Linked DNA regions of Homo sapiens: region 2 is linked to region 1. The links come from fine-mapping of genetic effects on gene expression. A gene starts in region 1. The other region holds a variant in brackets. All regions are shown on one strand. Distances are from middle to middle. Region 1 holds the start of TMEM91 (transmembrane protein 91). Region 2 overlaps BCKDHA (branched chain keto acid dehydrogenase E1 subunit alpha).

Region 1 (5,373 bases):
CAACATGACAAAACCTCTTCTCTACAAAAAACACCAAAAAATTAGCCAGGCATGGTGGCACATGCCTGTGGTCCCAGCTACTCAGGAGGCTGAGGTGGGAGGATTGCTTAAGCCCGGGAGGTCAAGGTTGCAGTAAACTATGATCGCTCCACTGCACTCCAGCCTGGGCAACAGAGCGAGACCCTGTCTCTCTCTCTCTCTCTCTCTCTCTCTCTCACACACACACACAAAGAGGGAGACAGCAGGGTGGACAAAAGCCAGAGGTGCATGCACTCTGAAGACACCAACCAGCGGAGTCTGAGATCAGAGGGAAGACAGAGCCAAAAGCCAGGCAACAAAGATGAGAGACATAAAACAAGAAGAACCGTAACTGGAAATCTCAGAAGCCCACACACAGCTGGGAAGTGAGACTCCAGGCCTAAGGCAGATCGGCACAGCTGTCAACCTGCCAGATGCTGGCCTTAGTGGGGCTCACCCCAGCCCCCTCCCGTGCCTTCCACTAAGGCCTGCTGTTTCCTACCTCAACATCAGGGGGCCTTGGTTCCCCCAGGCCAGCGCTCACGGAGGGAAGAGGCGGTGACAGGAACTGCAAACCCCTCAGGGACTCGGCAAAGGCTATCTCTCTTAAGGGGGACCCCAGCTCATGCCTGCCAGGCTTCTGGGCAGGGGTCTCACATTCTGTGCCCTCCAGCAGAGGCTGTTGAAGCTCACGAAGACTAGGGCTGTCCATGGCTTTGGGGAAACTCCAGGAGGGGTTTCCTAGGGGTAGGGGGAAGAAAAAGACAAGTTGTAAAAGTCTCACTTCACTCAACCTCTGACCCCTTGCTTTAGAGAGACTCAGGCAGAGACTAGTTAGTGCAGTGGTCCTCAGACCCATTTTACAGATACAGAAGCTGAGGCCCAGAGAGAAAAAAAGATTGGCCTCAGGTTATGAAGAGAACTCAGGGGTCTGGACATTCAATTTTGGGCATTTCTCTCTCTCTCTCTTTTTTTTTTTTTTTTTTGAGACAAAGTCTCCATCTGTTGCCCAGGCAGATCCACCACTGCAGATCCGCTAGAGTGCAGTGGCATGATCTCAGCACACTGCAGCCTCCACCTCCCGGGTTCAAACCATTCTGCCTCAGCCTCCCGAGTAGCTGGGATTACAGGCGCCCACCACCATGCCCGGCTAATTTTTTTTTTTGTATTTTTAGTAAAGATAGGGTTTCACTGTGTTAACCAGGCTGGTCCCGAACTCCTGACCTTAGGGGATCCACCAGCCTTGGCCTCCCAAAGTGCTGGGATTACAGGCGTGAGCCACCGCACCCAGCCAAATTCTGGGCATTTCTCTCAGGCAAAAGCCACATACCCATCACACTTACCCCAATAAGTTGCAGCACCTGTTGCACCATGCCTTACACACTTACCTGCCCCACAAACACCCCCAATATCCATCCCAGGTTCATACCGCGTGACCACCTATCCAGGCCCAGGCACCCCTCCCAGTCACACACACACCCATCCCCTACCCCCAGTGCTGCCTGGAACTGCACTCTAGTCTACATTCCCCATCCTCTGTCCCCTAGACCTGCCCCCCGAAGTCCCCTGCCACACAGCCCCATCTAGGCAAGCCCAGCCTCCACCTCCACACATTCATCTCCCAAAGGACTCCTTGAATATTTGCCCCAAAACATCAGCTCCCAGAAAACACCCCTTTCAGGTCCCCAACCTTCTTACACATTTATCCCAATTGACTCCGTGCACAACCCTACTCCCCACTGCATCACAAACCACAGACACCTGTGCACACACGCACACATGCACCCCGGCACTCTCTCCTATTCTCATGACCTCTGGCATGCCTGCCCCACTCATCAGGCCCAGGCACCCCTGCCCTACTCCACCCACACACCTATGACTCCACACAACTCCCACACATGCACCAGCTCTCCAGAATCCTTTGCACACCTCGCCCCCATAAACACCCTCAACCCCAGCACACACATACACGTACACACGCAACACAACCAGAAAGAATATTCTTCTTCTCGTCCTACGATCCCCCTGGAAGGTCCCCAAGCCTCCTGCCTGCTCATTCCAAACCTTGACTGAGCCGATTTCCTCGCCAAAGCTTTGCCCTCTCATCCCCAACTCCAGGACCCAGGGAAGGGACTGTGACCCCCACCCACCTACGTCCCTCACTCACCGCTCACGATCACAGGCCGGGGCTTCCTGAACCCTCGCAATGACACTTGCCCGGACCCTGCCACCGAGGATCCAAGGGGCGCTGGGACCTTGCGCTTTGCTCTACGCGGGTCTCAGCGCCCCGGGCCCGCTGCGCGCGGGGGCGGGGACGGGGCGGGGCGACGGCTTCCCAGGCTCTGTCCCTCCGCGGCGTCCGGCGAGGGATCCCTGAAAGCCGACGTCAGCGTCCAGGAACGGGTTCCTACGACTCCCGGGGGTCTGGGAGCAGGCGGGAATCCTTGGAGAACTGCAGCCCCTTCCTCGTGAGCCCAGGCCCAAGCTCTGCCGGAGGAGGGGGCACCCCGGATTCTCCAGGGCCTTCCTGGCTTGGCCCCGCCTCCCTTCCCCTTTGCGCAATAATAGCCAATAATAATAACAGCAACAAGGACCGTGCGCCCTGTTCTAAGTGCTTTGCAAATAAACTTACATACACATGTATTCCTCAGCACAACCCTAAGAGGCATAATCGTTTATTGTCCTGTTTCACGCGGGAGGAAACTGGCAAGCCGAGGTTAGGTAAATTGCCTAGGGGTACATCATTGGTTCATTGAGGGCAGACTGTACCCAAGCCCTGTGTTAAACGCTTTACATTCATCATCGCATTCATTCTTCCTCTCAGCTCCGGGTTTTTCTTGTTGTTGTTGTTGTTGTCGCTGCTATTTTACTTTGGTTTTTTTGTTTGTTTTGTTTTGTTTTTGAGACGGAGTCTTGCTCTGTCGCCCAGGCTAGAGTGCAGTGGAGTGATCTCGGCTCACCGCAACCTCCGCTTCCCGGGTTCAAGCGATTCTCCTGCCTCAGCCTCCCGAGTAGCTGGGATTACAGGGGCAAGCCACCACGCCCAGCTAATTTTTGTATTTTTAGTAGATGAGATTTCGCTGTGTTGGTCAGGTTGGTCTTGAACTCCTGACCTCAGGTGATCTGCCCGCCTCAGCCTCCCAAAGTGTTAGGATTACAGGCGTGAGCCACCGCGCCCGGCAGATTTTTTTTTTATTATTATTTTTTAAAAGACGGGGTCTTGCTCTGATCGCCCAGGCTGGAAGGCAGTGGCGCAATCATTGCTCGCTTCAGCCTCAGACTCCTGGGTTCACTGCAGCCTCGGCCTCCCAAAGCGGTGGGATTACAGGTGTGAGTCACCGCGCCTGGCCTATTTTGTTTTGGGGTGTTTTTTTGCGGAGGAGTGCTGAAGGGGTGTTGGCTTGTTTTTAATCCCTGTTTTGCAGATAAAGAAACGGGCTCACGGGCCGGGCGCAGTGGCTCACGCCTGTAATCCCAACACTTTGGGAGGCCGAGGCGGGCGGATCACGAGGTCAGGAGATCCAGACCATCCTGGCTGACACGGTGAAACCCTGTCTCTACTAAAAATACAAAAAATTAGCCGGGCTTGGTGGCGGGCGCTTGTAGTCCCAGCTACTTGGGAGGCTGAGGCAGGAGAATGGCGTGGACCCGGGAGGCGGAGCTTGCAGTGAGCCGAGATCGCGCCACTGCACTCCAGCCTGGGAAACAGCAAGACTCCGTCTCAAAAAAAAAAAAAAAAAAAAAAAAAGAAAAGAAAATAAACGGGCTCACTTGCATGCTCACTTGGCCACAGTAAACAGCTGGTACCAAGCCCAGCATATTGTAACCCCGGGCTGTGTTCCTGTGGCCCTTGCTAAGCCAATGGGTGAGGAGGAAGCAGAGGCAGGTGGGTTAGGAGTTTCTAGGGAAAGAAGGCTGAGGAGTGGGGTCCAGTAGGGGGTGATGCTCTGATTGTCACGTGGTACAGTGATGTTCATGAGTCAGCATTTGGACCCACATAGACCTGGTTTCCTTTCCAGGCTCTTTGTTTGTTTGTTTGAGATGGAGTTTCACTCTTGTTGCCCAGGCTGGAGGGCAATGGCGTGATCTCGGCTCACCGCAACCTCCGCCTCCCAGGTTCAAGCGATTCTCCTGCCTCAGCCTCCCGAGTAGTTAGGATTACAGGAATGCGCCATCACACCTGGCTAATTTTGTATTTTTGGTAGAGATGGGGTTTCTCCATATGAGTCAGGCTGGTCTTGAACTCCCGACCTCAGGTGACCCACCCGCCTCAGCCTCCCAAAGTGCTGGGATTACAGGTGTGAGCCACCATTCCTGGCCCCTTTCCAGGCTCTTTAAGTCACTGAGTGTGTGGCCTCTAGACAATGCCTTCACCTCTCTGAACCCCTATTTCTTCACCTACAAAATGGGGATAATGCTCCTTGCCTCTTATGTGATAACATATGTAGAGTACTTAGAGTTGCTGCAACAACAAATGTCCAACATTGGGAGCCTCTCTGAACCTATTTTGGTTTAGGTGCTGCCTAGGAAATAGAAAAATAAAAAATAAAAAGAACAGATATCCAACATTTATCCAAAGCCTGGCAAAGAAAGCACTCTGAACACATTTGATGGTGTTTATTAATATTATTATTTACATCCATCTCCATCGGACTGATTACAAGACTATCATCGTCTTGCAAGCTTCCACCTCCTTCATGGAGCCTTGTATAGGCCTCCCTTCCCAGAAGCCCTCCGTCTCACCAGACTGGAGGATTCCCTGGCCTTTGTGGGGCCGGAGTTCCCTCGCTCCAGGGCTCCAGGGCTCCTTGCCAAGAGTCCAGATGCTGGCGCTGGCACCGGCCCCACTCCCAGGGAGAACAGATGGCGTCTGCAAGTGCACTTGGCTCAGCCAGTTTCTGGCAGACGACAGAAGCAGGGAGACCCACGGGAGGGTAGACGAGAGCGTGAGGGGGCAGGATTGTTTTACTCAGGAGGGATGCCCTGTTACTTTCTATCTCAACCTTGCTCTCATTCTTTTCATATTTCTATGAAGCATACTGTAGGCCAGGTGCGGTGGCCCACGCCTGTAATCCCAGCCCTTTGGGAGGCCGAGGAGGGAGGACTGCTTGAGCCTAGGAGTTCGAAACCAGCCTGGGCGACATAGCAAAACCCCAGTCAGCAAGGCTGGAGTGCAGTGGCACGATCTCAGGTCACTGCAACCTCCATCTCCTGGGTTCAAGCCATTCTCCCACCTCAGCCTCCCAAGTAGCTGGGATTATAGGAACCTGCCACCATGCCCAGCTAATTTTTGTACTTTTAGTAGAGACGGAGTTTCACCATGTTGCCCAGGCTGGTCTCAAACTCCTGACCTCA
Region 2 (5,373 bases), 31 kb before region 1:
GGTCTCTTTCCCTATCGCCTGGCAAACTGCTACATACGCTTCAGTGTCCACTCTACTCTGGTCCCAGCTCCCTCTGCGAGCCCAGACTGACTCATTCAACAAATATTTGAGCACCTGACATGTTCCAAGCCCTGTGCTGGGTTCTGGGGACCTAAGACAGGCAAGATATCTGTCCTTGCTGCCTAGCAGGGAGGGCAGACACTAAACAAGTAACAATGATGGTGGTTCATATTATCCTATAGCAGAAGAAAGCGAGGGTAAGGCTTCCCTGGGGAAGTGATGTTAGAGCTGAAACCTGAGGGATAACCAGGAGGCAGGGAAAGCACATTCTCGGCAAGGTGTATAGAACATGCAAAAGACAAAAAGTGGCCAGGCACAGTGGCTTATGCCTGTAATCCCAACACTTCGGGAGGCTGAGACCAGCCTGGCCAACATGGTGAAACCCCATGTCTACCAAAAATACAAAAATTAGCTGGGCGTGGTTGCGCACACCTGTAATCCCAGCTACTCAAGAGGCTGAGGCAGGAGAATCACTTGAATCCGGGAAGCGGAGGTTGCAATAAGCCCAGATTGCACCAACACATCCCAGCCTGGGCAACAGAGACCCTGCCACACACACAAAAAAAGACAAAAGGCAAGGAATAGTGTGTCCTTCATGGAAGACAGAAGGAGCTCAGGGCCTGGCAAGGTGGCTCATATCTGTAATCCCAACACTTTGGGCTCAAGGATTACTTGAGCCCAGGTGAGCCCAGGAGTTCAAGACCAGCCTGAGATCACATCTCTACAAAAAATTTTAAAAATTACTCAAGCATGGTAACATACACCTATAGTCCCAGCTACTTGGAAGGCTGAGGTGGGAGAATCGCTTGACCCCAGGAGGTGGAGGCTGCAGTAAGCCATGATCACACCACTGCACTCCAGCCTGGGCAACAGAGCAACATGCTGTCTCAAACAAAAAAAAAAGCTCAGAGGGGCTGGAGGAGTCCTGCAAGGACATCACACCTCCTCAGGTCAGATGAGGAATGGCTGAGAAAGCCCAGGAGACCTGTGAGAAGCCTATAAATGCTCAAAGGGATATGAACCCACTGGGACTCTTAGCTCTGGAGCTAGGCAGCCTAGAACCAGCCGAGGCGTTGCAATAGCTCCCCCTTATGAAGCACCTGCTGTAAGCCAGCTGAGCCTGGCAGGCACAAGCCTACTAACTCCTCGGGGAATTTGTGAGGTTGATTATCTGCCATTGCCCTTGAGTAGATGAGGAAACCGAGGCCTGGGGAGGTAAAATAACCTGCACCAAACCACAAATTTAAAAAAAAAAAAAAAAAGGTGGGGATGCTGGGCAGTGGCTTACGCCTGTAATCCTAGCACTTTGGAAGGCCAAGGCAGGAGGATCACATGAGCTCAGGAGTTTGAGACCAGCCTGGGCAACAGTGAGAAACCCTGTCTCCACAAAAAAATACAAACATTAGAAAGGCATGGTGACACATGCCTGTGGTCCCAGCTACTTGGGAGGCTGAGGCAGGAGGACTGCTTGAACCTGGAAGGATGAGGCTGTAGTGAGCTGAGACTGTGCCACTGCACTCCAGCCTGGGGGACAAAGTGAGACCCTGTCTCAAAAAAAAAAAAAAAAAAAAAAATTACATCAGAACTGGGCTTCCAACGCTGAGATTCAGGCTCCTAGACATCCATGCTCCTCACCCCAACTGCCCCTGCAGCCTGATTTTCAAACATCTGCAACTTTTCTTCCCACTACTCCCGGGATTCCTCCGAGGTCAGTAATGGTGGCTTCACTTCCCACAGATGTTAAAGAATGGCAGGGTTTGCCACAAGCTGGATCTCACACATGCGTGCTCAAATGTGTCCCTCCGTCTTCCTTTAACTGCAGTGAACAAGCTGTCCACAGTTCTAGCGGGGTAGCATGTTCAGTGTGTGTATTTATTTGCATTTGTAGTCGTGAGGAAATTACACTCCCAATGGCAGGGCAGATTCAGGCCTGGCAATGTCACTGCAGGCCTCCCCTTGTGAGGAGGAAACAGCCGGCCTCTTGCAGCACAGTGCTTCCCCCTTCTGAGTACCCAGCATAGCCAGACACTGACCTAGAAGATTGCTTTGTTTCGTGTCTGTCTCCCACACACACCACAATCCCAGGAAGGCAGAGACAGCGTCCAGGTTGCCTTCACAGCAGGCACTCAAGAGGGAATTCCTGAGTGAATGCATGAATGGGCTGTTAAGTTCCCTGGCTCTGGAGTTCAACTGCCCTGGGTTCTAATTTCTTAGCTCATTGTGTGGCTCTCTGCAAAAACACTTCACCTCTCTGAATTTCCTTATCTGTAAGAAGGCTGCAGAACACCACGTGAAAAGTTGCTAAGTTAACTCACACCAGGGGTTCAGCACCGATCTGGGACGTATTACATACTCAAAACTTGGTAAGAGAGAGAAAAACAAAATCTAGGAAGGTGAGAAGTGGGAGAAAGGGAAGTGACTACACTGTATGAGATAGGGAAAAGAGGAGCTGGGAAGAACTAACTGCACCTTAAAGTGGATACTAAAATCAAACTGTGGCGATGTGCAGCGGCTCATGCCTGTAATCCCAGTACTTTGGGAGGCTGAGGTGGGAGGATCACTTAAGGCCAGTGGTTCGAGATCAGCCTAGGCAACATAGTGAGTCCAGCCTAGGCAAAACCCTCGTCTCTGAAAAATTTTTAAATTAGCCAGGAAGGCTGGGCGTGGTGGCTCACGCCTGTAATCCCAGCACTTTGGGAGTCCGAGGCAGGCAGATCACCTGAGGTCAGGAGTTCAAGACCAGCCTGGCCAACATAGTGAAACCCTGTCTCTACTAAAAATACAAAAAACAGCCGTGCATGATGGTAGGTGCCTGTAATCCCAGCTACTTGGGAGGCTGAGGCAGGAGAATGGCTTGAACCTGGGAGGCGGATGTTGCAGTGAGCCAAGATGGCACCATTGCACTCCAGCCTGGGTGACAAGAGTGAGACTCTATCTAAAAAAAAAAAAAAAAATTAGCTGGGAATGGTGGCATTTACATGTAGTCCAGATACTGGAGTTGCGGGAGGCTGAGGTGAGAGGATGGCTTGAGCCCAGGAGGTCAAGGCTGCAGTGAGCCATGACTGCACCATTGCACTCCAGCCTGGGCAACAAAGTGATACCCTGTCTCAAAGAACAATAAAACCAAACTGTGGCCCCAGCAGATACTCCAGAGAGGGA[G/A]ACTGAGGCACAGGGGAGACGGCATGCTGATGGAAGAGGACCGAAGGCTGAAGTCTTCAGACGGGCACTAAGAGGGGAGGCCAGAGTCTGAGAACAAACCACTGTGTCAGGGCAGGACTGTCAGCCTCTAGAGGCTGGACAGCTATCTTCACGGCACCCCAGTGTGCTCCACATACTGCAGCTGGGTCTCGGCTGTACCCTCCTCCCCTCTTTGCTGGGCTGGTGGAGATAATGGTAGTCCCCAGCCCCAGGGTTGCTGCCCCAATTCAGTGAGCTATGCAAAGGGCTCCACGCTGTGCCTGGTCCTGAGGAAATGCTCCATAATGGGAGTGGGTGGCCAAATGCCTGCAGAGGAAGGATGCGACTCCACCCATCTGTTCCTCTAGTTTTTGGAAGGGGGTGGGGGAGTCTGTCCCGGTGGCCAGTGATTTACAATGGCAGAGGCTGCACAGATTTACACAAAGCTTCATGCCACGTCCTCTCCCACCATGCAGGAAAGCACAACCTGCCCGCTCTGGATGGTCTGGTCTGCCCAGGAAGTACTGGGGTGACCCTGGTGGAGTCACTTGAAGGCACCATGGCTAAGCGCATGGACTCTAACTGAGCAGACCGCTGCCTGATTATGTGACTTAAACTCCCTGAGCCAAGTGCAGTGGCAGACGCCTGTAATTCTAGCTACTCTGGAGGCTGAGGCAAGAGGATCACTTGAGTCCAGGAGTTCGAGGCCAGCCTGGGAAACATAGTGAGACCTCGTCTCTACAAAAATAAATATATAAATAAAATTTAAGGCCAGGTGTGGTGGTTCACACTTGTAATACCAGCACTTTGGGAGGCCAAGGAGGGAGGATCGCTTGAGCCCAGGAGTTCAAGACCAGCCTGGATAACATGGCAAGACCCCATCCCTACAAAAAATTAGCTGGGCATGGTGGTGCACACCTGTACTCCCCAACTACTTGAGGGGCTGAGGTGGGAGGATCGCTGGAGCCCAAGAGGCTGCAGTGAGCCAAGATCACACCACTGCACTCCAGCCTGGGTGACAAAGTAAGACCTGTCTCAAGGAAAAAAAAAAGAAAAAATTTTTAAAGAAAAACTCCCTGAGCCTCAGTTTCCTCCTGTGTACACCGAGGGTGGTATAAGTACTTATCTCAGGGGTTGTCATGAGGATTAACCGAGTTGACCTGTGTGGATTGCTCAGCCCAGTGCCTGGCACATAATGTTTCATAAACACAAGTAGTGAGTAAGTATTTCTCATGATTGTTCTTGTTAAACAGATACTGAACATTTGCTCCAAATCATGCCCTGAACTGAAGGCTAGAGACAGGGAGGGATGAATGACAAACACTGAACACACAAGTTATAATCAAGACAGGTGATCTTACTCACATTGCTTCACCTGACTAGCCTAAAAAAACAAAAAAGTGTCAAGTTGACAGGTAAGCCAAATGAAAATACAGAAATAATATGGCTGGGTGCGGTGGCTCATGCCTGTAATCCCAGCAGATTTGGGAGGCTGAGGCAGGTGAATCACTTAAGGTCAGGAGTTCATGACCAGCCTGTCAGGCTGATCACGATGGTGAAACCCCATCTCTACTAAAAATACAAAAATTAGCCAGGCGTGGTGGCACGCACCTATAGTCCCAGCTACTCAGGAGGCTGAGGCAGGAGAATCGCTTGAACCTGGGAGGTGGAGGTTGCAGTGAGCCAAGATCGCACCACTGCACTCCAGCCTGGGTGACAGAGTGAGACTCCATCTCAAATAAATTAATAAATAAAATTAGGCTGGGCGTGGTGGCTCACGCCTGTAATCCCAGCACTTTGGGAGACCGAGGCGGGCGGATCATGAGGTCGGGAGATCGAGACCATCCTGGCTAATAAGGTGAAACCCTATCTCTACTAAAAATACAAAAAATTAGCCGGGCGTGGTGGCGGGCGCCTGTAGTCCCAGCTACTCGGGAGGCTGAGGCAGGAGAATGGCGTCAACCTGGGAGGCAGAGCTTGCAGTGAGCCGAGATTGTGCCACTGCACTCCAGCCTGGGTGACAGAGCAAGACTACATCTCAAAAAAATAAATAAATAAATAAAATTTTGGCCGGGCACAGTGGCTTATGCTTATAATCTCAATACTTTGGGAGGCCAGGGCAGGCAGTTCACTCGA

The links. PIP is the estimated chance that this variant, and not a neighbour inherited with it, causes the effect.
Region 2: its variant is the best candidate, but not a certain one, in a credible set for the expression of TMEM91 in whole blood (TOPMed, PIP 0.87).

What each region holds. Positions count from the first base shown.
Region 1 is chr19:41,373,667-41,379,039 of GRCh38, reverse strand. TMEM91 (transmembrane protein 91) reads right to left here and starts at 2,507. Exons shown (of 4, transcript NM_001098821.2): 1 at 2,186-2,507; 2 at 521-759. The coding sequence starts at 730. RefSeq lists a silencer at 2,262-2,391.
Region 2 is chr19:41,404,212-41,409,584 of GRCh38, reverse strand. The region is part of intron 1 of BCKDHA (branched chain keto acid dehydrogenase E1 subunit alpha); the gene reads right to left. Among named protein-coding and RNA genes, the nearest start is that of BCKDHA, 9.1 kb to the right of the region's middle. RefSeq lists enhancers at 1,104-2,059, 2,060-3,014. The variant G/A (reference allele first, on the strand shown) is at 3,220.